Regions from separate parts of the Homo sapiens genome. Here region 2 is linked to region 1. Evidence: fine-mapped expression QTL. A gene starts in region 1. The other region holds a variant in brackets. All regions are shown on one strand. Distances are between the middles of the regions. Region 1 holds the start of IL6ST (interleukin 6 cytokine family signal transducer). Region 2 overlaps IL6ST (interleukin 6 cytokine family signal transducer).

Evidence for each region. PIP is the estimated chance that this variant, and not a neighbour inherited with it, causes the effect. A credible set is the group of variants that fine-mapping cannot tell apart.
Region 2: its variant is the best candidate, but not a certain one, in a credible set for the expression of IL6ST in whole blood (TOPMed, PIP 0.56).

Annotation. Positions count from the first base shown.
Region 1 is chr5:55,986,072-56,003,226 of GRCh38, forward strand. It overlaps IL6ST (interleukin 6 cytokine family signal transducer), which reads right to left and starts at 8,892. Exons shown (of 17, transcript NM_002184.4): 1 at 8,713-8,892. IL6ST-DT (IL6ST divergent transcript) reads left to right here and starts at 9,096. Exons shown (of 2, transcript NR_102755.1): 1 at 9,096-9,483; 2 at 15,678-17,155. LOC124901197 (small nucleolar RNA U13) reads right to left here and starts at 14,550; the gene lies at 14,447-14,550. RefSeq lists cis regulatory regions at 7,660-9,978, 8,672-9,345, a silencer at 8,623-9,102 and enhancers at 8,934-9,445, 17,090-17,155.
Region 2 is chr5:55,944,224-55,952,223 of GRCh38, forward strand. IL6ST (interleukin 6 cytokine family signal transducer) reads right to left here. Exons shown (of 17, transcript NM_002184.4): 13 at 7,706-7,852; 14 at 7,241-7,381; 15 at 3,270-3,366. Among named protein-coding and RNA genes, the nearest start is that of IL6ST, 47 kb to the right of the region's middle. The variant A/T (reference allele first, on the strand shown) is at 4,726.

The sequences.
Region 1 (17,155 bases):
GTGCACTTAAAAAGCACTGCTGCTGCTGGTAGAGTGTTACATAAATGGTCATTACGTGAATTTGGTTGATAGTGTTCAAATCTTCCATATCCTTACTGATTTTCTGACTACTACTTCTATCATTGTTCAAAAAGGGATATTGAAATCCCTGAATATAACTGTGGATTTACTTCTCCTTGCAGTTTTTACCCTGTTGTGTTTTGAAACTATGTTATTTGGTAGATCCTTTTGATAAATTGACCCTTTTATCATTAGGAAATGCCCTTCTTTACCACTGGTAACATTCTCTGAAATCTACTTTGATATTACTATAGCCAATTCTGTCTTACTTTGATTAGTGTTATCATGACATATCCTCTCCCATTCTTTTTTGTTTAATCTGTATGTTTCTTCATATTTAAGTGGCATCTTTAGGGGGTAGGCAGCATGTGGTTGTATCCAATCTGATAATCTCTGCTTTCCAATTGGGTGTTCAGACCATTTACATTTAATATAATTTGTGATATGATTAGGTTTAAAGCTATCAGCTTCATATTTGTTTTCTTCTTGACTGTTCTTTGTTCCTGTTTACTTTTCTGCATTTATTTTTCTTAATTATTTTTTATTCTCTTTTCCTTGTTAGCTAATAAGCTATAATTCTTTGTTTTCTTATTGGTTGCTTTAGGTTTATAGTGTACATCTTTAACTTTTCACAATCTATCTTCAAGTAATATTATGTCACCTCAGGCATAGTATATAATAGTATACTTCCATTTCTCCCCCCAGACCTTTGTGCTATTTTAGCATATATTTTACTTTTGCATATATTAAAACTTCACATTGGTAGCTCCCACCTGAAATCCCATCACTCTGGGAGGCCAAGGCAGGAGGATCACTTAAGCCCAGAAGTTTAAGATCAGGTTGGGCAATATAGTAAGACTCTCGCCTCTACAAAAAATAAAAAGTTAGACAGCTGTGGTGGTGCATGCCTGTTGTCCCAGCTACTCAGGAGGCTGAGGTGAGAGGACTGCTTGAGCCTTGGAGGTCGAGGCTGCAGTGAGTTGTGGTTGCACTACTGCATTCCAGCCTGGGTGACAGAGTGAGACTGGCACATATTTACTCGTGTGGTTACCATTTCTAGAGCTTTTAATTCCTTTGTATAGATCCGTATTTCCATCTGGTATCATTTTCCTTGGGCCTGAAAAACTGCCTTTAACATTTTTTTGTAGTATGGTTAGAGAAAAGTCTAAATAGATTTGAAAACAAAACCAAAGTGTGAATGCTAACAAGTATTTAGCCTAAAATAAGCACAGTTCAAAATGAGAAAAGATACTGCTAATTACTATATTAACAGACCAAAGGAAAATGACAGGGTCATTCCAACAGATGTTTGAAAAGCATCTGATAACATTCAACAACTGTTCATCTAAAACTTAAAAATAACAACAAAGTGTCAGAAAACTAAGACTGAAAGAGACCATCCTTACCTTGGTGAAGGATAACAAAGATGATACAGGGACTCTAGAACCAGATTGCTTGTGTTCAAATTTCAGTCCCTATATTTTAACATCTTAGGCAAGTTTTTAAATAGCCTTCACTTTTACTTCCTTTATCTGTAAACATGGGGTACCACCACCACCTACCCATCTAGGAATGTTATGATGATTAAATAACTCATTATACATAAAGTGCTTAGAATCATTTGGCTCATTGTAACTACTCAATAAAAGGTTAACAGCTGTTATTATTAGTGCAGCTCTTGCTGTTGCTGCCACAGGTACTACTATAAGAAACCTACAAGGCCAGGCATGGTGGCTTACGCCTGTAATCCCAGCACTTTGGGAGGCCGAGGCAGGTGGATCACAAGGTCAGGAGTTTGAGACCAGCCTGGCCAATATGGTGAAACGCTGTCTCTACTAAAAATATGAAAATTAGCTGGTCGTGGTGGTGGGCACCTATAGTCCCAGCTACTTGGGAGGCTGAGGCAGAAGAATTGCTCGAACCCGGGAGGCAGAGGTTGCAGTGAGCCGAGAATGCACCACTGCACTCCAGCCTGGGCGACAGAGTGAGGCTCTGCCTCCAAAAAAAAAAAAAAAAGGAAGAAAGAAACCTATAATAAGCATCTATAGGTTTAAAGGTAAAAATTAGAAGCGTTCCTATTAATGTCAAGATTCAGACAAGATGCTTGAAGTCATCAGTTATTCACCACTGCTCTAAAGGGCTTAAGCAAAAATATAATAAATAAGATCTAAAAATGGAAAATAAATTGTGAATGATATGATCATCTATCAAGAAAGAGTGAGAATCACATGACAAACTATTAGGACTATTGAGAATTTAACACAGTAGTCAAACAAAACATCATCAAAAAATAATAGGACTATTTAGAGTTTAACATAACAGTCAAACAAAACATCATCAAAAAATAGCTCTCCAGCTGGCGCGGTGGCTCACGCCTATAATCCCAGCACTTTGGGAGGCCGAGATAGGCAGATCACCTGAGGTTGGGAGTTCGAGACCAGCCTGACCAACATAGAGAAACCCTGTCTCTAATAACAATACAAAATTAGCCGGGAGTGGTGGCGCACACCTGTAATCTCAGCTACTTGGGAGGCTGAGGCAGGAGAATCACTTGAACCCAGTAGGCGGAGGTTGCAGTGAGCCGGGATGTCGCCACTGCACTCCAGCCCAGGCAACAAGAGCAAAACTCCATCTCCAAAAAAAAAAAAAAAAGCTCTCCTACATACCAGTAATAACTAATTAGAAAATGTAACAGAAGGCTGGGTGCAGTGGCTCACGGCTGTAATCCCAGCACTTTGGGAGGCCGAGGTAGGTAGATTGCTTGAGCCCAGGAGTTCAAGACCAGCCTAAGCAACATGGCAAAACCCCATCTCTATAAAAAATAAAAAAAAAATAAAAAAAAAAATCAGCCGGGCATGGTGGACCATGCCTGTAATCCCAGCTACTCAGGAAGCTGAGGTGGGACAACCACTTGAGCCTGGGCTTATAGAGGCTGCAGCAAGCTAAGAAGCCAAGATCTTGCCATTGTACTCCAGCCTGGGTAACAGTGCGAGGCTCTGTCTCAAAAAAAAAAAAAGTCTCGCAGAAAAAAAAAAAAAGGGCAGTCTAAAGGTAAAGTAAACATAGCACTGATTGGCAAATGAATAGACAACTAAATCAATGGTACAAAACAAAACACACTCAAGTGTATATAAGAATTTAGTATCTGATTTTTTAAAAGGTTGCTCATTTGCTGGGAAAATAAAGGACTATTCAATAAATAGTATTGGGACAACTGGCTCCATAAGCAAAAAAGAAAAAAAAGAACCCCATTTCATCAGACAAAAAGACACACACTCATGCACGTGCACATGCATGTATAAGCATACACTCTCTCTCCAGATTAAGGACCTAAATGCAAAAGCAAAATTATAAGCATATTGAAAAACACATAGAATATGCTTATGACCTTAGGGCCTTTTAAAATTAGACTATTTTAGCCAAATGAAAAGGTTTACAGAGCACTTTGATGAACATCCATGTTCTCACCATTGCTTAAGAAATAAAAGCTCAAGCTTTTATTCAATTTTTATTCCGTTACAAACATAATTGAAGCCATATAAATAGTTCTTGCCTTTAAGAAGTCCAAAGTTTAGAGATGCAGAATATGCACAAAGTGCCACAGGAGCACAGAAAATACCCAATTCAGACAGGGGCCAGGAGCGCCCAGTCTTAAAATAAGGGTAGGGGTTCCTAGATAGAGAAAATAGCACACATATGAACTCTACATCATCTTTGACTCTAATTGTCAAGTGAAGATTACCAATGACAAAATCCCAGAGCATGCCAGTCTAACCAGAGCTATGCTATCTGAAACATAGCTCTGATTAACTCACTTTGCACTAGGGGGTGGGGTTGGGGGTAATACATAAAACAGAACATCCAAACAAAAAAAGACTGAGCAGATCAATCAACCTTAGAGCAAAGGGTGAAGCTGATTGCTTAAAAGAAAATGAAACTTTGGAGGCAGAACATTCCAAATGTAACAGGGCAACAGATTTACAGTGCTGAAAGGAATGAATCTCCTGCTCTGGATATGTATACACACAGCTTTAAAACAATCATCTATATACTATAGCCATTTTTCAGCCAATGTAGCTCTCTTATTCACGATCAATCAGCTAATTTCTTATTAAATCTTACTAAGATACACTAGATAGCCGCAAAGTTTAAAAAAAAAAGAAGAAGAAGAGACTGTAGCCATTTTGACTATATATATCACAAGTGTTTCTGAAGCCTTTCACATTGTTGACCATCCCTGGTTCTTGAATTTCTCCTATATCCTGGTTTCTATGTAACCAGATAATGTAGTTGAATTCTTTCCTTTATCCTCTTTCTTGTCTCCTTTACTGAATTCTCTGCTAGCTTTTATCTCCAGGCTATGAAGGTACCCAAAGATAAAGTACTGGGCATCGACTTTTCTTTTTAAATACCAACTTCTTTGAAGACATGACTTCAACTACTACCTTCAAACAAAATAATTTCAAGAATTTTGGCTTGGATCTTTCTTTTAATTCCAGTTACATTTCATCTTCTTAGATATTCTGTCTCTGAGTCTTATCAATTTAAGAGGTCTAAAAACAATACACCATAGGTACATGCTCATGAACACATATACACATAAATGCCCACCCACTTTTTTTGTTTATTATACTTTAAGTTCTAGGGTACATGTGCACAACATGCAGGTTACATATGATACATGTGCCATGTTGGTGTGCTGCACCCGTTAACTAGTCATTTACATTAGGTATATCTCCTAATGCTATCCCTCCCCCCTCCCCCTACCCCATGACAGGCCCTGGTGTGTGATGTTCTCCACCCTGTGTCCAAGCGTTCTCATTGTTCAATTCTCACCTATGAGTGAGAACATGCGGTGTTTGGTTTTCTGTCCTTGCAACAGTTTGCTCAGAATGATGGTTTCTAGCTTCATCCATGTCCCTACAAAGGACATGAACTCATCCTTTTTTACGGCTGCATAGTATTCCATGGTGTATATGTGCCACATTTTCTTAATCCAGTCTATCATTGATGGACATTTGAATTGGTTCCAAGTCTTTGCTATTGTGAATAGTGCTGCAATAAACATACGTGTGCATGTATGTCTTTATAGCAGCATGATTTATAATCCTTTGGGTATATGCCCAGTAATGGGATGAATGCCCACACACTTTTTAAAAAGTCACAAGGACTTACCATTTTTCCCTATCTACAAACAACTCATCCTCTTCAACTGCCTAAGTCAATGGAGTCCATCGTTTCTCTCATCTATGCAGTACATTTTAGCTTTTCTCAGTTACAAATCTTATCCTGTCTTCTCTCCCATAATATCTTTCCCACCCATCTCTTCTTTTTACTCTCTACCACAAACTAACCTAATTTGGACATTGATCACCTCAATAATTTCAACTGTGTTCCTGCTTCCAGTCTCTTTCCTCCCCACCAAGCATTCTGAACATTGTTGGTGGATCACTCTCTCTACAACACAACTTTAAACCTGTCATTCTTCTCCTCAACAGCTTTTTAAAGGGTGAATAATAATGCCAAATATTCTAACTATTTAAGAACCTAAAATTTTGGCTTTGATGTGCCTATCCAATCTATCTTTTCCAATACTCAAGTTTCTCTATTCTAAAAAAAAAAAAAAATCCTTTCCTCAGACTCCTCCCTCAAGCTACCTTACTACTATACTTCTAGAGAGAACTGCTTGCAATTGCAAGCAATCTGGCTTTTTTACTCCAATAATGCTGAAATTATTCTTGTAGTTTCCAAACTGCAAAGCAAATACTTAAGCTCCTCATTTTGCTTGACCACACCATGCCATTTATAATTCGGTCTTATCTTTCATCACTCCCTACTAACCATCCCTGTAGACTCAGCAAACCACTAGACTTCCTCTAACATACCTTGTTCTTTCAGTCTGTGCTTCTACATATATTATTCCAATGTCTTTCCTGACTCTGCTGTGCACTACAAACTGCTTTTGAAGTATCATCTCTTATATGGAATTTCCCCCCACTTCAAACATCTTTGCTGTCAGTGTACTCTTACATCATTCCCTAACAGGACTCAGAACACTGCACAGTAATTGTTTCACATATCTTGATATCCTCAGAATCTACCATAGTTTGAGGCACCTGGTGGACAATTAAGGGTGGGTTTTTATAGACTTTCTGGTATGATCTTATTTTCTATCTACTCGCTGTCGCTCAAGCGTACTGTATGGAGACGCAGGATGTATCATGGTTAAGAGGTCAGATTCTGAAGCCAGGCTGTCTATGTATGACCTTTAGATCTACCACTTAGCTGGGCAAATTAATTAACCTTCTTGTGCCTGGGTTTCCCTATGTGTAAAAAGAGGATTTTATCCTATTATTATTAGACCTACTTCATAATATTATGAAGATTAAATGCCTTAATATGGGCAAAGTGCTCAAAACAGCAACTGGCACAACATAAGCACTAAATATATTGCCTGTTTTAATTAATAGACCTTAGTTACTGCTGATCCTTTCCACAAGCTAGTCCTATATTATGTTCTATATTCTCCATTCTACATTTTGTCCTCCATTCGCTATTATTAATGGGCTGTCTTCATTTTTCCCTTTATCCAAATCCTACCCAGGTTTCAAGGCCAACTTCTGGTAAATCCTTTGCTCATTCCAATCCTTAAATGCTCACTCCAATCCTTAAACGATCATTCCCTAATTTTAATATCTACAGGATTTTCTGCATCACTCTGCATTTAATTAAAACTGCTTTGCATCCTTGTAGTTTTTTTCGTATAAGTTTGTCAATCCAATTATTATAAACTCTTTGAAGGTCCTGATTACATCTCCTGCACCTTTGTGAGTTCGTACAGCAGGTAGTAATTGCTTAGTATTTGCTGTGTAAAATAATAAAGCACAATAGGAACCTCAACTCTGATCATTCTGCCTTTGCAATCAAAGAAACGGAGAAGCTGTGAGAACATTCCATGCTTCTCTAGGAGCCAAGCTGCAAATGTATTAGGGCCAGAGAATTCTGACTCCCATTAAAATGAGCAGCTCTGAAAGGAGGGAGCGGGGAATCCCTCCCTGCCACTGTAGAGGATTTATGGGTTGCCCTTAAGTTCCCAAACCAAATTGTGGCACTGGGGTTTTTATGAGAAACGTGTCAACATGACAAAATGATTCAGAGCACAGGATTTGGAGTCACACAGATCTAGTTTTCAGCGAGACTCCTGTTTCCTTCTCTATAAAGGGGACATTTTAACACCTACTTCACATGTATTTAACTTTCGCCCTAACACTGAACTGAAGTGCAAAGCCTTGGAAACAAATTTAAATAAATTGAAAATACTGCAATTCACAAATAAGAGTGAGAACAACATTTTTAGTTACGTAAGACTATATTATATTAAATTAGGTGGCAGCAGTATTTATAATAATCTAAATTGCCTGTGAGAAAATTAAACTGGTATTGTCAATACATACTTAAAATAAGAAAAAAATCCCACTACAGTCTGTCCTTTTTGACACTTTCTCCTTCCTGTAATTTTTTTCTTTCACTCAAGATTAAAAACAAACGTTCAAGATTATCCCTAAAGAGAAATAGTTGGAAAGCACAATTTAATAGCAAGTTGGTTCTATAAATGTAATATTTCAGTTCATAGTTCAAAAATACTTCCAAATAGGAATTAACATGAATTTAAGAAATTAACATAATGGCACACAGCTAAACTGATGATCTGAGTCCGTAATTTCAAATTAAGAGTTGTTCCAACTTGAAGCTGGCAGTCATACACAGTTTAAAGGGTTTGTTTACAGCACTGTCAAAAGCAAATACCACAATCTTTCAGAAAATTCACCCTGGCATTCTAATAACTAGTTATTTTAAGGCAGTATAATTGTTGAAATACTTCACAAACTAAGCCAAAATGCGTTTCCTTCTGAAGGCAAAAAAAAAAAAAAAAAAAAAAGGTGACGTCTTATTTTTAACCTGTGATTTTTTTTTTTTTTCAGTTTCGGATTATGAAATAAAATGCTGTTCATCCACTGAAGAACAGACCCTTGCTTCCTGCACTATCTTCAAAAGTTTAGGTCGGAGGAGGTAAAATTTTAAAAACTGATTTGTTCTCCTTGGGATACAGTGAGATGTGGAATTCGTTAGGAATGATAATTATTAATAGAAAAGATCAAAAGAAGGAAAGAAACGTTAATAGTGTTTATAAGCATTGTGAACTTTCAACAAAGCTGAAACGTTACGATTTCAAGATGAAAAAACGGCTTTGGGGAAGGGAAATCCACCTCGAGAATGAAGACAAGTGCGGAGCGAATAGAATTTCAGGGGAGATGAAAAGGGGATTGGGAAAAACGTGGGATCTGGTAACAAAAAGGGGGGTTTGTTCTTGAAGGGCGTTCTGCGGGGCGGGCGTTAAGAGGGGTGCGTGCGTGCGCCTGGGTGAAGTTTGTACTCAGGGCTGCGATAATCGAGGTGACAAAGTTGTGGAAGTAGAATTCGGAGGTCCGGGAGCAGGAAGGGGAAGGAATGTGGGGATTTCCAGGCTGGGCTGACAAGTTCCGGGCGCTGCTCTCAGGGGGAAGGGAGGTCTCCTCGAGTGCCAGATAGCCCGTCCGAAACCACCGACACTCTAACTCCAGCTACGCGACCCAGCACCCGGCCCCTCCTCACCTCAGGCCGCGCCGCCTCGACCCTCCGCGTCTCCACAGCGCACGAACCCCTTGGCGCCAGGCTGGGCCAGACCCGTCGGCCTGGCAGGCGCGGCCCCCGGTTCAGCTGCGCCGGGGCGGCCCAGCGCGACTCCGCGGGCCTTTTGGCTGCTCGCCCCGGCTCCGGAACACTGTCAGATCCTTCTCCGCAGAGGTAGCGCGCCACCCCAGTCCCGCGGCGGGGCGGGGCGCTCCCCAATCCCGCCCAGCTGCGCCCCCGGCCGGCCAACGCTGCGCCCCGCCCCCTACCGGGACCTAGGCGCTGATTGGCCCCTGAGAGACCCTTTGCGCCCAGGCATTGGTCCAGTGGCCGCCTGTCGACGAGGGGGCGGGACTCCGAGGGGTAGCGATTCCCGTAACGCGGCTCTTCGCGTCCCGGATTCCGGTGGCTGCGTCCGCGTCGCCTCTCCCAGACTAGATCGAAGGGTTCCCCCCACCTCCCCTCTGTGGGCGGAAAGAGCGGAATGTTCCATTTTTCTGTGGAATAACGGGGTCATGAACTGGAGCCCGGGTGCTGCCCGCCGCCCGCTGCCCCCGCCCTCCCTTCTCGCCAGGGCGCCTGCGGCCTCTCTTCGCGGCCTTCCCCGAGGGACTCAGAGCCGCGAGGGACCGCCTAGCTCCCTTGGGGATGGGGAAGGCGTGGGAGCCTCTTGGGGAAAGTGAAGAGCTCGGTGGCCGTGACTCCGCACGAGACTGCGGCAGATTGTGGCGGCGGCTTCTCTCCAAGACTTACGTAAACGAGCCTTGCCACAGTACTTTTTTAAATTAGTAAATGAGTTTGGGTGCGATTGATCAGTGAGCCCCAGAGGTGGTGGCCCACCAAGCGACTAGTGTTTCTTTGCGGTTTGTACCTCCCCGTTTATGATAAAAAATACCGGGTAAAAACCTATTCATCCCGCCTCCGCCCCCCCCTTTCCCTCAGAAAATGGACCTCAAGGCTCATGATGTTTGTTTCTCCCCAAAGGAAGATGAGAATCTTGAGTTAAAAGATAAGGCATGTGCGTGCGTGCGTGTGGGGTGTGTGCGTGGGTGTCTGTAAAAGTAAACACCCAAAGGTAGAGGTTTTTGTGGAAGAATGAGAGGATATAGGAAGGAAATAATGGTTTAATGAACTTAAATTATATCCATAAATTAACAATTATAAAGTTCTTCATTATATTGAGGATTCAGATAGAGTAAAACATAGATCGAATTTTAATCTCTTAGTTGTTGATCAGATAATTTATAAAAGGGCAAAGTGGGCCTGCTAACGGAGTCGCAGGCAAAGTAGATGGTGCTGCAGCTGATGTGTTCAGCTCTTGCTCCTCCCTGTCATCCTATATCTAACCTATAGATTGTGACCAGATTCTGTTCTAGCTTTGCCATTTAGAGGGGTGTTTATTTTAAAACAAATTTTTATAAAAATTTGTTAAATTGAAAATTTTGTATAGATCCAGGAAACTTGATTTTTTTGTTGTTGTTCACAGTCTCACTCTGTCACCCAGGCTGGAGTGCAGTGGCTGGATCATGCTCACCGCACGTTCAAATTCCTGGGCTCTAGCGATCCTCCCACCTCAACCTCCCAAGTATCTCAGACTACAGGTGCCCCTACAATACCTGGCCAATTTTTAAAATTTTTGGAGAGACAAGATTTTGGTATGCTGACCCGGCTGGTCTTGAACTGCTGGCAACAAACGATCCTCCGGCCTTAGTGGCCTCCCAAAGTGCTGAGATAACAGGTGTGATGCAAAGATGTATTTAGGGGAGATGTATAGTGGTTAAATGTACCCTCTGGTTCTAGATTGCCTAGGTTTAAATGCTGATGCCTCTATTTCTCATCTCTGTGACCTTGGGCAAGTCTTTTCAAATTTCTTCATCTGCAAAATGAGAATAACAATACCAACCTAACAGGATTGTTGCAAGGATTAAATGAGTTAAAATACATACAGTGTTTGGCACATAGTAGGTGCTCTGTAAGTATCAGCTATAATCATTATTGAATGTCTACTCGGTCAACACTTCTGAAATATTTTAGTATCACAACATATATTAAAAATGATGATATTTTGCTGGACGGGGAAGGGCAGGTACACAGAAGTGGATTGATATGTCACAACACACCAGCCTGCCTTGGCACCATTAGGAAAACAAATGACTGAGTTAGTGCTTTTATGGGTGTCTTTTTATTGGCTCAGCTCAGGTCCTGCTCCCAAGAAACTCACATTTTATGGGAGTAGTTAAAGTCTGAGGCCAAAAGGATGAATCAATATTGGAGAAGTATTTTTCAGAGCAACAGGACGGAAGACCTCTGCTGTGCTGGAATTACATGACTTTGCAGATACCTCTGTAGAGTATTGGCCTTGAAATTACGAATTTCAGATTAAGGATTTGTTACTAGAAAGCCTTGTCAAAATGCAAAGGTAAGTAGGGGAAAGTAGTATATTAATGGAGAACTCTCCATTTGTGTCCTGTGACCATTTGAGATTTTAGATATGTCAAGAGCAGGCCGGGTGCAGTGGCTCACACCTGTAATCCCAGCATTTTGGGAGGCTGAGGCAGGCGGATCACTTGAGGCCAGGAATTCAAGACCAGCCTGGTGAAACCCCAACTCTATTAAAAATACAAAGATTAGCCAGGCATGGTGGTGGGTGCCTGTAATCCCAGTTACTTGGGAGGCTGAGGCACGAGAATCACTTGAACCCAGGAGGCAGAGGTTGCAGTGAGCTGAGATCCTGCCACTGCACTCCAGCCTGGGTGACAGAGCAAAACTCCTTCTCAAAAAAAAAAAAAAAAAAAAAAAGAGATTGAGGAAACTGTACAGTGAGAAAGTAACATGAAGGCACCAAAATTACAATTACTTGGGAGTAAGTGAGCAAAGCTTAGGAAATTGTGCCATGGAACAAAGGTGATAAATGTCAAAGACAAACTTTGCCTGCATTTCTAATTCCCTAAATCTGGTGCTGACTAGGATATCCCTTTACTTCCTTGTCTGTGCCCAGTTATGTTTCTGAAATTCTGTGTCAGCCCTGGAATTATCCTCATGTTCTGTATCACCTTAATGATTTCAGCATCCATGTTCATGACTCATTAGCACTCTGACCTCACAATTTCTCATCGTTTTCTTTTCCAATCATCTTCAACTTCACTCTGTATCAGCAACCCACAGATGGAGCCACACCTTCAACCTAGTCATCAATGAAATTACTTCCCCTCCAAAATGCTGGATTGTGAGTTTCCCTCTCTGTACCTACAGCCACCTACCCCCATCTATCTCTATTCTGTGGTCATTCCCATTGAATCTGTAATTTGTCCTCAATGTGACAGCCTGACAGCCAGTCTTTCTTCTCATAGTTTATCAGCTGTTTCCTATCATTTTTTATCTTACTTACCAGTAAGAACCCCCTTTTTTTTTTTGAGACGGAGTTTTGCTGTTGTTGTCCAGGCTGGGGTGCAATGGCACGATCTTGGCTCACCGCAACCTCCGCCTCCCTGGTTCAAGTGATTCTCCTGCCTCAGCCTCCCAAGTAGCTGAGATTACAGGTGCTCACCACCATGCCTGGCTAATTTTTTGTACTTTTAGTACAGACGGGGTTTCACCAAGTTGGCCAGGCTGATCTCAACTCCTAAAAGTGATGGGATTACAGGGGTGAGCCACCGCCCCCCAAGAACCCTTTTATCAACCATTTTAACTGCACTATTCTCTTCAGTTCCCTTGACCTTCAGCTATGTTTACCTTATCAGGCTATTTCCTAACTATTTCCTTTTTCCTTGAGCTATCAGCCCCACCGTAACATTTATTCTTAGTACAGAACCTTGTTTTACTCCCTTAAAATCAAGACCATCATTTGTGAGCATCCTTGACTTTTCTCCAACTTAGGAAGCAAATAGATATTTATCCTCTTTCTCTTTTCCCCACTCAGAGGAAGAAAGGCCCCTTTACTTTTAAAAGGTTAATTTCTCCTCCTCTGTTCTTGGTACTACTTTAAGTCTAGTCCCCTAGTTTTATATTTTTCATTATTAACACTAAATGACTTTGAAATGTTTAAAAATTAGATATTAACTCAGTGGTGAGTTGAGGACAGCCTCTCTGCCTGTGTTAAAACCTTTGTAACCTGATAGCACCTAATTCACCAAAATTAAAAATAATTAAATGTCTAAAAATGAAGAATGTTAAGCTACATTGAAATTCACTTAACAAAATGAGGTGAGAATGAAAAATGAACTTAAATTTCCAAACTAGAAGACAAGAGAAATTCATTTCATAGCAACAAAACTCAAAACCATTATGACTGCTATTTCAAAAAATGTTTTGAAGAATGTATATTCAGAAAAATCAACATACCATAAGAGTACAGCCTGAAAATTTTTGACAAAATGAACACATTCATGTTTATCATCTATATCAAGAAACAGAAGGCCTGGCACGGTGGCTCACACCAGTAATCCCAGCACTTCCGGAGGCCAAGGCGGGCAGATCACGAGGTCAGGAGTTCGAGACCAGCCTGGCCAACGTGGTGAAACCTCATCTCTACTAAAAATACAAAAATTAGCTGGGCTTGGTGGTGCATTCCTGTAATCCCAGCTACTGGGGAGGCTGAGGCAGGAGAATGGCTTGAACCTAGGAGGCGGAGGTTGTAGTGAGCCAAGATTGTAGTGAGCCAAGGTTGTATAGTGAGCCACTACACTCCAGCCTGGGTGACAGAGCAAGACTTGGTCTCAAAAAGAAAAAAAAAAGAAAGAAATAGAAAATAGTCTGGGTGCGGTGGCTCATACCTGTAATCCCAGCACTTTGGGAGGCCAGAGGCTAAAGCGGGTAGGTCACAAGGTCAAAAGTTTGAGACTATCCTGGCCAACGTGGTGAAACCCAGTCTCTACTAAAAATACAAAAATTAGCCAGGCGTGGTGGCACACGCCTGTAGTCTCAGCCACTCGGGAGGTTGAGATATGAGAATCGCTTGAACCCGGGAGGCAGAGGTTGCAGTGAGCTGAGATCACGCCACTGCACTCCAGCCTGGTGACAAAGTGAGACTCTGTCTTAAAAAAAAAAAGAAACAGAAAATGACCAGTACCCCAAAAGGGCCCTCCTCCCATCCAGTTATTGGAAGGTCATAACTGACCACTATTCTAATGTCATAGCGTTGTACCCAAGCGAGTTAGAGAAAACGACACACTTTGAGACGAATTAAGAGTCCTTTATTAGCCAGCGACCGAGAGATAGCTAACGCTCACAATTCTCTCTGCCCCGAAGAAGGGGCTAGATTTTCTTTTATACTTTGGTTTAGAAAGGGGAGGGGGGTCTAGTTAAAACAATTTTACAGAAATAAAGTAGGCAAAAAGTTAAAAGGATAAATGGTTACAGGAAAGTAAACAGTTCCAGGTGCAGGGGCTTTAAGACTATTACAAGATGATAGACTCAGGGCTTTGGGTGTTATCAATCAGACGAATTCCTGGGAATTGCGGATATAGCTTGCCACAGTATCTTATCAGTTAATTGCATTCTTGGATGTGCTGGGAGTCAGCTTGCACAAGTTAAGTCCTTGAGGAAGGGGCTGCCAGTGAAAGAGTCAAGATGGAGTCTGTCTGGCTCTCTTAGCTAAGGGAGAGTCAATTCAGGTGGAAACAAGCCTAAAAACAGGGTTAGTAAAAACAAGGTTGGGCATTACAATAGTTTTATGCTGTCTTTTTAAACTTGAAAAGTGTACAGAAAAATTTTTTCACATCAGATGGGTAATGTGCCAACGTCGTAACAAGGTTTGCGGGAGGCACATCTCACACATGCACATGAAAACCCAATCATCAGGCTTATAAACTACAAAAGAATCTGAAACTTCTTAGGCTTAATATTAGGTTGGTGCAAAAGTAATTTCTGCCATTACTTTTAATGGTGAAAACCACAATTTTACACCAACGTAATATATTTACTTATTTTATTTTAATGAATATACTAAACCAAGAGAGTTTAAAATGAAATAAGTACTGCTCTGTGGCCGGGCGTAGTGGCTCACGCCTGTAATCCCAGCACTTTGGGAGGCCGAGACGGGCGGATCACAAGGTCAGGAGATCGAGACCATCCTGGCTAACACGGTGAAACCCCATCTCTACTAAAAAATACAAAAAATTAGCTGGGCGTGGTGGTGGGCGCCTGTAGTCCCAGCTACTTGGGAGGCTGAAGCAGGAGAATGGTGTGAACCCGGGAGGTGGAGCTTGCAGTGAGCCGAGATTGCACCACTGCACTCCAGCCTGGGTGATAGAGCAAGACTCTGTCTCAAAAAAAAAAAAGAAAGAAATAAGCACTGCTCTGTAAAGGTAAACACAGAGGAAGGGATCTAGCTCAGAGATCTCCATACTGTGGACTTCCAGGGATAACCCTGGTCAAATAGCCATGGGCTGGTCAATGATTTTGAGTTACTCTTTGAGAGGGAAGCTTGGCTTCAGAGAAGGAAAGGCCAGTGCAAGACATGTGAGCAGCAGTTAGGTGCATCCTATTCCTAGACACATACATAGGATAAGGAAGTCAGGTATTGGGACTGTAGCTTTGGAATGGACTATACTTGCTTCAGAATATTATCAGGGGGAGTTTGAGAAGCAAGGGCTTTCCTTCGTTGATTCTCCTTTCACCAGTCTTCCTGGAAAGAATATTCTGCAGTTACAAAATAGGTTCCTTGGCTGCCAGTCTGATACTTGTGCTAAAACCAAATAGATGAAAAAGTATCAACATGAATTTTAAAAAATATATTGTGTGAGCTTGTATAGCTAAGAATTCCCAGCCCCCTACATAGGATCTGAAGAAAGATCTAGTACTAATTGTATTAAATAATGGTTTAGGCAAATGTGTATCTGTCTCCTTAAGAGAGGAAGGCAGTCCCTACTGTAAAGTAAAAATGAAATGGATATACTTCCTGAGAGGGCTGGAATTTTCTGATAATTGTCCCCTCTGATTTTTCACAGGATTTACGGAATGGCCATCTTCCATAATTAACAAATAAATAAATGAAATTTAATGTCAGGGTCAAATGAAACTGGAAACAAAGCTTATCTGGTGATATATCAAATTATGAGAGTCATTATTTGGATGTAAGGATATATGACAGATAGACTCTTAGGAGAAATGCTATGACCTCCTGCTTCTTGGTATTCCTTGTGTGATTTCCTCCTCTTGAGTGTGAAGGCATGTATGTCATTGAGTTATATAAGATAGTGCCCATCTTGCTAGTGTCTCTCTCTCTCTTGTGGCTCTGAAAAATCAAGCTGCCTGCCATGTTTGAGCTTTGATATGGAAAGACCCACATGTTAAGGAACTGAGGGCAGACTCTGCCAACAGCTAGCTTTGAAACTGAATCTCCCGGCCAGGCACAGTGGCTCATGCCTTTAATCCCAGCACTTTGGGAGGCCAAGGTGGGTGGATCACAAGGTCAGGAGTTCAAGACCAGCCTGGCCAAGATGGTGAAACCCCATCTCTACTAAAAATACAAAAATTAGCTGGGTGTGGTGGCAGGCACCTGTAATCCCAGCTACCCAGGAGGCTGAGGGAGAGAATTTCTTGAACCCAGGAGGCAGAGGTTGCAGTGAGCTGAGATCACGCCACTGCACTCCAGCCTGGGTGGCAGAGCGAGACTCCATCTCAAAAAAAAAAAAAAAAGAGAGAAAGAAACCAAATCTCTCAGTCCTACAACCTCAAGGAACTGAATTTTGCCAACAAAAGCAGATCCTTCCCCAGTCAAGCCTCAGATGAGACAGCATCCTCAGCTAACAACTTGTTTGCAGCCTCATGAGAACTGAAGCAGAGAACCCAGCTAAACTGTGCCTAGACTCCTGACCACAGAAACTGAGATAATAAATGTGTGTTGTTTTAAGCTGCCAAGTATGTGATAATTTGTTATGTAGTGGAGAACTAATACAACAGGGAAAAGTTAAAAGCTATTCACATAAATATTTATAATGGATACTATTTCTACACATTTAAATCAAGCTTCTCTTACGTTCATAAGAAGATACGAATCTGGAGAAGGAAATTATATCAAGCAGAACGCTGCTCTGGTGTTGTGAAGACGGGATCCCACCATTCTAATGTATTCAATTTATTTATTCAATAAGTTTTGAGCATCAACTATGTTCCAGGCACTGAGATATTAATCTAAGGAAGACACACGTGTTGTCCTCATTGAGGAGCTCAAAAGTCTAATACATAAACCAACAATCATACAAAAATCATAGCCATGTTACAGTGCTATGAGGAAGATGTTAAGAGAATATTCTGGAAGTACTCATACATAAATACTTCAGAAACTGGGCATTATAAGAAGTCAGTTGCCTCTCTCTACTTTCAGTTCTACATTTTTATACCTTGTAGTGGATTTAAAATGGCCACAAATTCTTCAATACTCTTCTATGGAGAGATTTGAGGGCTATTTCCCTTCATCTTGAAT
Region 2 (8,000 bases), 46 kb before region 1:
TTAGCCAGTGCATTAAGACAATAAAAAGAACTAAAAGCATAAAGATTAGAACAACTATAATTACTCCCAAGAAGCATGATTGTGTATCTAGAAAATCCTAAGGATCCAAAAAGCTACTAATAAATGAATTTATCAAAGTCTCAGTATACATGATGAATATATTTTAAAAAATCAATTGCATTTCTATATACTAAGAATTAGAAAATATTTTTAAACATTTCATTTATAATAACAAAAAATACTTTTGTCATGAATTCAAAAAAAGTTATGCAAGGCCTGTCTACTGAAAACTACAAAACACTGCAAAAGTAAATTAAACAAAACCCAAATAAATAAAGAAATAAACCAGGTTCACGGATTGAAAGACTCAGTAGCGTTAAGACTGCAGTTCTCTCTCGGCCTTAGCGCCATTTTTTTGGAAACCTCGGCGCCATGAGAGCCAAGTGGAGGAAGAAGCGAATGCGCAGGCTGAAGCGCAAAAGAAGAAAGATGAGGCAGAGGTCCAAGTAAACCGCTAGCTTGTTGCACCGTGGAGGCCACAGGAGCAGAAACATGGAATGCCAGACGCTGGGGATGCTGGTACAAGTTGTGGGACTGCATGCTACTGTCTAGAGCTTGTCTCAATGGATCTAGAACTTCATCGCCCTCTGATCGCCGATCACCTCTGAGACCCACCTTGCTCAAAAACAAAATGCCCATGTTGGTCCTCTGCCCTGGACCTGTGACATTCTGGACTATTTCTGTGTTTATTTGTGGCCGAGTGTAACAACCATATAATAAATCACCTCTTCCGCTGTTTTAGCTGAGGAATTAAATCAAAAAAAAAAAAAAAAAAAGACTGCAGTTCTCTCCTATAGATTCAATTAAATCTGACCTATAGATTCAATAAAATCCCAATCAAAACTATAGTTTTAAAAAAGTTGACAAGCTGAATTAAAATGTATATGAAAAGGCAAAGAACCTAGCCAAAATAACTTCTTTAAAAAAAGAACACACTGGAAGAATTCTACCTATTTTCAAAATTTACTATAGAGCTATACTCATCAAGGCAATGTGGTATTGGCATAAGAACGGACATATATACATTTATGAAACAGAAGTGAGAGTATGGAAATAGATACAGACTTATAAAGACAATTGCTTTTGGCAAAGGTACCAAAGCAATTCAATGGGGAAAAGACACTCTTTTCAAAATAAATGACAATGGAATTAGACATCTGAAGGAACAAAATGAACCTTGACCCTGACCTCACACCATGCACAAAAATAACCTGAAATGGATCATAGACTAAGAGCTGAAACTATTGAACTTATGGAAGAAAACATGAGAAAATATTTTGATACTGTGTTTGGCAGGACACAAAACTCAGGAACCACAGAAAAAAAACTGATAAAATGAACTTCATCAAAATAAAAAACTTATGCTTTTTTTTTTTTTTTTTTTTTTTTTTTTCAGACACTCTGTCACCCAGGTTGGAGTGCAGTGATGTGATCTTGGCTCACTGCAACCCATGCCTCCTGGGTTCAAGCAATTCTCCTGCCTCAGCCTCCCGAGTAGCTGGGATTACTGACGTGTGCCACCATGCCCGGCTAAGTTTTTGTATTTTTAGTAGAGATGTTAGCCACTGTGTTAGCCAGGATGGCCTCAATCTCCTGACCTTGTGAGCCGCCCGCCTTGACCTCCCAAAGTGGTGGGATTACAGGCGTAAAACTTCTGCTTTTCTAAAGCCACAGTTAAGACAAAAAAACAAAGCACAGACTGGGACAAAAGTTTGCAAAACGTATTTAACAATGTTGTAACCAGAACATATAAAGCACTCTTATAGCTCAATTATAAACAAAATAACCCAATTTGAAAATGGGTAAAAGATTTCAATAGACACATCACAAAAGAAAATATGTAAGTGACACATGAAAAGATCCATTACTAGTCATCGGAGAAATGAAAATTAAAACGATATAGTACTACACACCCACTAGAATGAAAGAAGTCTGACAGCACTAAGTGTTGGTGATAATATGGAACACTGCTGGAGGCAATCCAAGATGGTGTAGCCACTCTGAAAAAGTTTGGCAGTTTCTTATAAAGTTGAACATATACTTACCATATGACCCAGCACTCTCACTCCTATTATTTGTTCAAGATAAAGGAAAACATATGCTCGCACAGTTTTGTATGTGAATATTCATAGCAACATTATTTATAATAGCTAAAAATTAGAAACAACCTAAACTTCCATAACAGATCAGTCTAAGTTTTGATATATCCATACTACAGAATACTGTTCAGCAATAAAAAGGAAAAAGGTAGGCCAGGTGTGGTGACTCATGCCTGTAATCCCAGCACTTTTGGGAAGCCAAGGTGGGTGGATCACTTGAGGTCCGGAGTTCGAGACCAGCCTGGCCAACATGATGAAACTCCGTCTCAACTGTAAATACAAAAATTAGCTGGGCATGGTGGCAAGTGCCTGTAATCCCAGTTACTCAAGAGGCTGAGGCAGGAGAATCACCTGAACTCAGGAGGTAGAGGTTGCAGTGAGCCAAGATCATGCCACTGTACTCCAGTAAGGGAACAGAGTGAGACTCCATCTCAAAAAAAAAAAAAGGGAGAAGTATATGCAACATCATGGATGAATCTCAAAAATATTATGTAAAAGACATACGCAAAAGACTACACGCTATGTGATTCTATTTATATAAAATTCTTGGCCGTGGCTCACACCTGTAATCCCAGCACTTTGGGAGGCTGAGGGTGGATCCCCTGAGGTCAGGAGTTCGAGACCAGCCTGGCCAACATGGTGATACCCCATCTCTACTAAAAATACAAAAAATTAGCTGGGTGTGGTGGTGGGCGCCTGTAATCCTAGCTACTTTGAAGGCTGAGGCAGGAGTCTGAACCAGGGAGGCAGAGGTTGTAGTGAACTGAGATCGCACCACTGCACTCCATCCTGGGCAACAAGAGTGAAACTCTGTCTCAAAATAGATAGATAAATAAAAATTCTAGAAAAGGCAAAACTACAGTTACAGAAAAGCAGATCAATGACTGCCTGGGGTTGGGCTGAGAAGAAGACAGATTACAAAGGAGAACAAGGAAGCTTTATAAAAGTGATGAAAATGTTCTATATTGTGATTATGGTGGTAGTTATACATCTGTATGTAATTACAAAAATTCATCAAACTGTACACTTAAAATGGATAAATTTTATTGCATGTAAATTCAGCTCAATAAAGCTGGGGGAAAATGCAAAAATATGAATAAAGTTACTTACAGGTCTCGCTTATTAAAGCAGAACAGCACTCCCAGAAGAGTTGTCAATAGGAATGCTAAGCAAACAGGCACGACTATGGCTTCAATTTCTCCTTGAGCTTAAAAAAAAAAAAAAAAAAAAAAAAAGAGGTGTGATGGGAAATAATGTTGACATATGAACTAAGAAGACATAATACAACTTCCCAACCAGACTTACTGTTGAAAAGATAAAATACAATCCTAATTATTTTTCAAGGTCTCTTCAGACTTGATGATTTTTACCCTCTTCTCTCTTTGGTAAATCACATCCCAACCATTTATGTCTTATACATTAACCTGGCCGCATAGCATAAAATATATGTTGGTTGGGGGATAAAAATGATCAGTGTATCGGGTAATCTACTGGGTTAGAGCTTTCAAACATAACCATTTGTAACATTTATGATCTGCATTTGGTAGAATCTTAGTAAAAGTTTATCTCTGAGTTCTAATACTGTATAACAGAGAAATTATGTCAGAACAAATATAAATACTGGGTAAAATGGAAAAGCTATAAAAACATAATTGAACTACACATTTAACCTTCTAAAAAATAAAAATGCAACTCTCAGAAGTTTTAAGAGTTATTTACCATTTTTCAAAAGGAGGATATAGCTGGTACAGGGCTAAGAACTTTAGGAGCTGCTCAATGGGCATGAGGAGTGGCACGAGTAGGAATAAACTAAAAAGTAAACAAGCCTAAGATCCCTAAATACCACACAAATCCTCATCTGCATTTAAAAGAGGACTTGTTCATCAAATTAATCACTAATTGGGATAATTAACATTGGAGATTTTTTAAATGACTGTCCTGATTAATTTTGAATTTTACTTAGTCTTTTACAGTAAAAAATGTATGAAAGTAATATTGCAGCCATATACTATTCACTTAATTTTATCCTTCCACCACACATATCCCTTTGTAAGTAACTAACATCCTATGAAGCTCAGTAGAAATCAAGAAATCAGTTAAATGCTTGAGAATAAACTATGGGTTGGCAAATATTAACTCTTAAATGCTAAGCATCATATATATATATATATGGGTGTATGTATATATATTTATGTGTGTATATATTGATATATGTGTGTATATATATATTGATATGGGTATGTATGTGTGTATATATATATAAAATGCCAAATCTAATTTAGGCAGAAACTTTGCTTTATTAAACATCTGCTTTTATGTTTTCAAGCCTGTGCCTTTGCTCATGCTGCTCTCTAAGATGCCACCTTCTTCCTATTTGTCCACATACTAACTCAAGGCTCAAGTATTTTCTTCTTCATAAAACCTTTGAAGGTAAAATTATCCACTACTGGTATATTTAAATTCCTACTCTATTTACTGTCTACATAGTCCACAGGTTCTCCTTTTTCTGATTTACTTATGCAAAATTTCTTCAACTAAGCTGTAAGGTCCTCGTTGGCAAGACTCA[A/T]GCCATGTGAAGAAGCCATAATGGATCCATGAGACTACAGATAGAGAATTGAAAAAAGGTAGGTTATAAAATAATACTAAGTATAATTTAATTTTAGGAAAAAAATATATACAAAGAAGACACTAAAAGGATACACAAATATGTTATTTTGGGGTAAGGGACTAGGACTAATTTTTCTTCCTCTCTACATTTTACTGTACAGTCTAAATTCCCTATAATGAACACCTATGTAATAAAAAAATTTTAGGCTGAGCATGGTGGCTCATACCTGTAATCCGGCACTCTGGGAGGCTAAGGCAGGAGGACTGAGGCCAGGAGTTCAAAACCAGCCTGGGCAACACAGCGAGATCCCATCTCTACCAAAAAAATTGTTTTAACTAGCCAGGCATGGTGGTGCCTACCAGCAGTCTTAGTTACTTGGGAGGCTGAGGCAGGAGGATTGCTTGAGCCCAGGAATTTGAGGTTGCAGTGAGCTATGACTGCACCACTGCACTCCAGCCTGGGAGACAGAGCAAGACTCTGTCTCAAAAACAAACAAACAAAAAATATACATATGGGCTTTTATGTGTGTGTGTACACACACACATACATATATACAAAGCTCTGTAGAGATGGCTGGTCTCCACAGAAATACATAAAATATACATTTTTAAGTTTATTTTTTAATTTTTCTCAAGATTATGGTATAAAGTTTTATTTTAAATAACATACCTATTAACATACCACCACATGGGACCAACCTTATCCCAGAAACTATATTCATTACTGACCCTAACAGCAAAGCTCAGGAACTTTTATCATTTATTTTATGTAGTCACTCATTCATTTATTCCCTCATTCAGCAAGCATTCAACCAACAAGGCACATGGAATTTACTACTTATCATTAACTAGGCTGGCACTTGGGGGTGGGGGTTACAATTATGGTAAAATAAGGTAATTTTCTATAATGATTCAAAATGTAGGGGGAGCAAGAAAGAATGTTGGTTAAGTTTGCTTTAGGGAAGATACAGAAGAGCCAGATGATGAGGTGAAGACCTCACTGGGGGCAATGCACTAAGAAAAGAGAAGTTAGCATGAGGAGCTTGCAGTTGAAGAAAATGATGATGAAAGGGTACGCACAATCAACAGGACTTGACACTCAGCTTATGTGAGAGAAAAATATACAAATACATTTATTGTAATCACATTTAAATTTATGGCTTTGGCATAGAACGAGGGAGGGAAAATGTATTTGGGAAGGAAAGAGAAGATGGCTAAAGCCATGGACAGAGTTTGAATAGGCAAGTAAGAAAACAGGGTCAAGAGGCCGGGTGCGGTGGCTCATGCCTGTAATCCCAGCACTTTGGGAGGCCGAGGCAGGTGGATCACCTGAGGTCAGGAGGTCGAGACCATCCCAGCCAACATGGTGAAACCCCGTCTCTACAAAAATACAAAAAATTAGCCAGGCATGGTAGTGGGCACCTCTACCCCAGCTACGTGGGAGGCTGAGGTAGGAGAATCACTTGAACCTGGGAGGTGGAGGTTGCAGTGAGCTGAGATCGCACCACTGCACTCCAGCCTGGGTGACAGAGCGAGACTCTGTCTCAAAAAAAAAAAAAAAAAAAAAAAAAGCAAAAAAAGGAGAAGAAGAAGAAAACACCAAAGAACAAGGAGACTCAGGAGACTGTGCTAGCAGAAAAAGTATGGTTAGAAAACCCAAGGGAGGAGGGAGTTTCAAGGATGGAAGGCCAACAGAGTCAAATGCAGAAAAGGCTGGAGGCAGTGGCTTATGTCTATAATCCCAGCACTTTAGGAGGCCAAGGCAGAAGGATCACTTGAGCCCAGGAGTTTGAGACCAGCCATCTCTATAAAAAAAATTAGCTGGATGTGGTGGCACTGGTCCCAGCTACTTGAGAAACTGAGGTAGGAGGATCACTTGAGCCCAGGAGGTCAAGGCTGCAGTGTGCCATGTTCATGCCATTGCACTCCACTGTAGCCTGGGCAACAGAGTAAGACCCTGCCTCCAAAAAAAAAAAGTAGAAAAAAGATGAAAACTAAAAAGCATGCAGTACATATGATGATCAAGAGGTCTTCTGAGTGACACCAGAGAGGTTTCAGTGCAGGGGTGGGGTAGGACCCCTAATTTCAGTATGTTAAATACTGAGTGGGAGGTACGGAAGTGAAGACTGTAAAGTGGACTAGTCCTTCAAGTAATCTCTCAATAAAAGAAAGAAATGAGGATAGAGAAGGAAAGAACACACCCAAACCAGTGAAAAAAATGAACCCACATGGAAAGATACACAAATTCTTTTAGGATTTTTAGTACAGCTGAATATAGTCAGAAGCAGTTAATAAAATACCAAAAAGGTGAGGAATAACACTTTCTATAAAGAAACCACCAACCAAAGCCAGATAATATAAAAATCATCATGAATCCAAAGATGTACTTTTTAACACAATTTTAGCACATAAACTAAGTTCATTTCTAACCTAAGTTTGAGAAAGAAAAAAAACCAAACTTCATTATTTCTTACCAAACTTTGGGGTAGTAAAAGTGAATTCTGGACCATCCTTCCCACCTTCATCTGTGTATGCTGCCATTCGTACCATGTACAATGTGTCACTAGTCAAAGAGGACAATGTATATTCTGTGTGGGAAGAATCCACATTCACAGCTGGAAGAAATAAGAACTGTGCTTCATTCAACTATTCAATGCTTTTGCTTATTTGGCCTATATTTGGCATTGTGAAAGTGTTAAAAAAGAAGCGAAGTATTTTTGTTGGAAAACAACTTTTATAATGTTCTGACATAATTTTATGTTCTAAAGCACAACACAATACTTTTTCAATAAATCCATGAAAGTAACCATAAGGCAAATTCTCAGGTGTCTCCTGAGGCCAATATACTATAAGATGTATAAGAAGAACAGACTTAAATTAGTACTTAAAAGCTTAAGGAAAAAATAACTGATTCTTAATAACTGATACAGTTTTATTACCAGTTTCATTTCCAATGATGGTTCTATAAAATATAGTATAATTTCTGATAAATCCATTCTGAACATCAACAGGAAGTTGGTCCCACTCTAAGACAGCTTCGTTTTTCCCTACTTTTTTTGTCCGAACAGTAGGTCCTTTGGAAGGTGCTGTAACAGAGTGAACACATTTGCTAACTGAAAATCATTTACAATCTAGTAAAATTTCCTTGTCATAAAATCATTTGAACATAATGAGATACATCTTTATTTAAAAGCGATAAAATGTTTCTGTTAATACAAAGCCCTAAACTTTTTT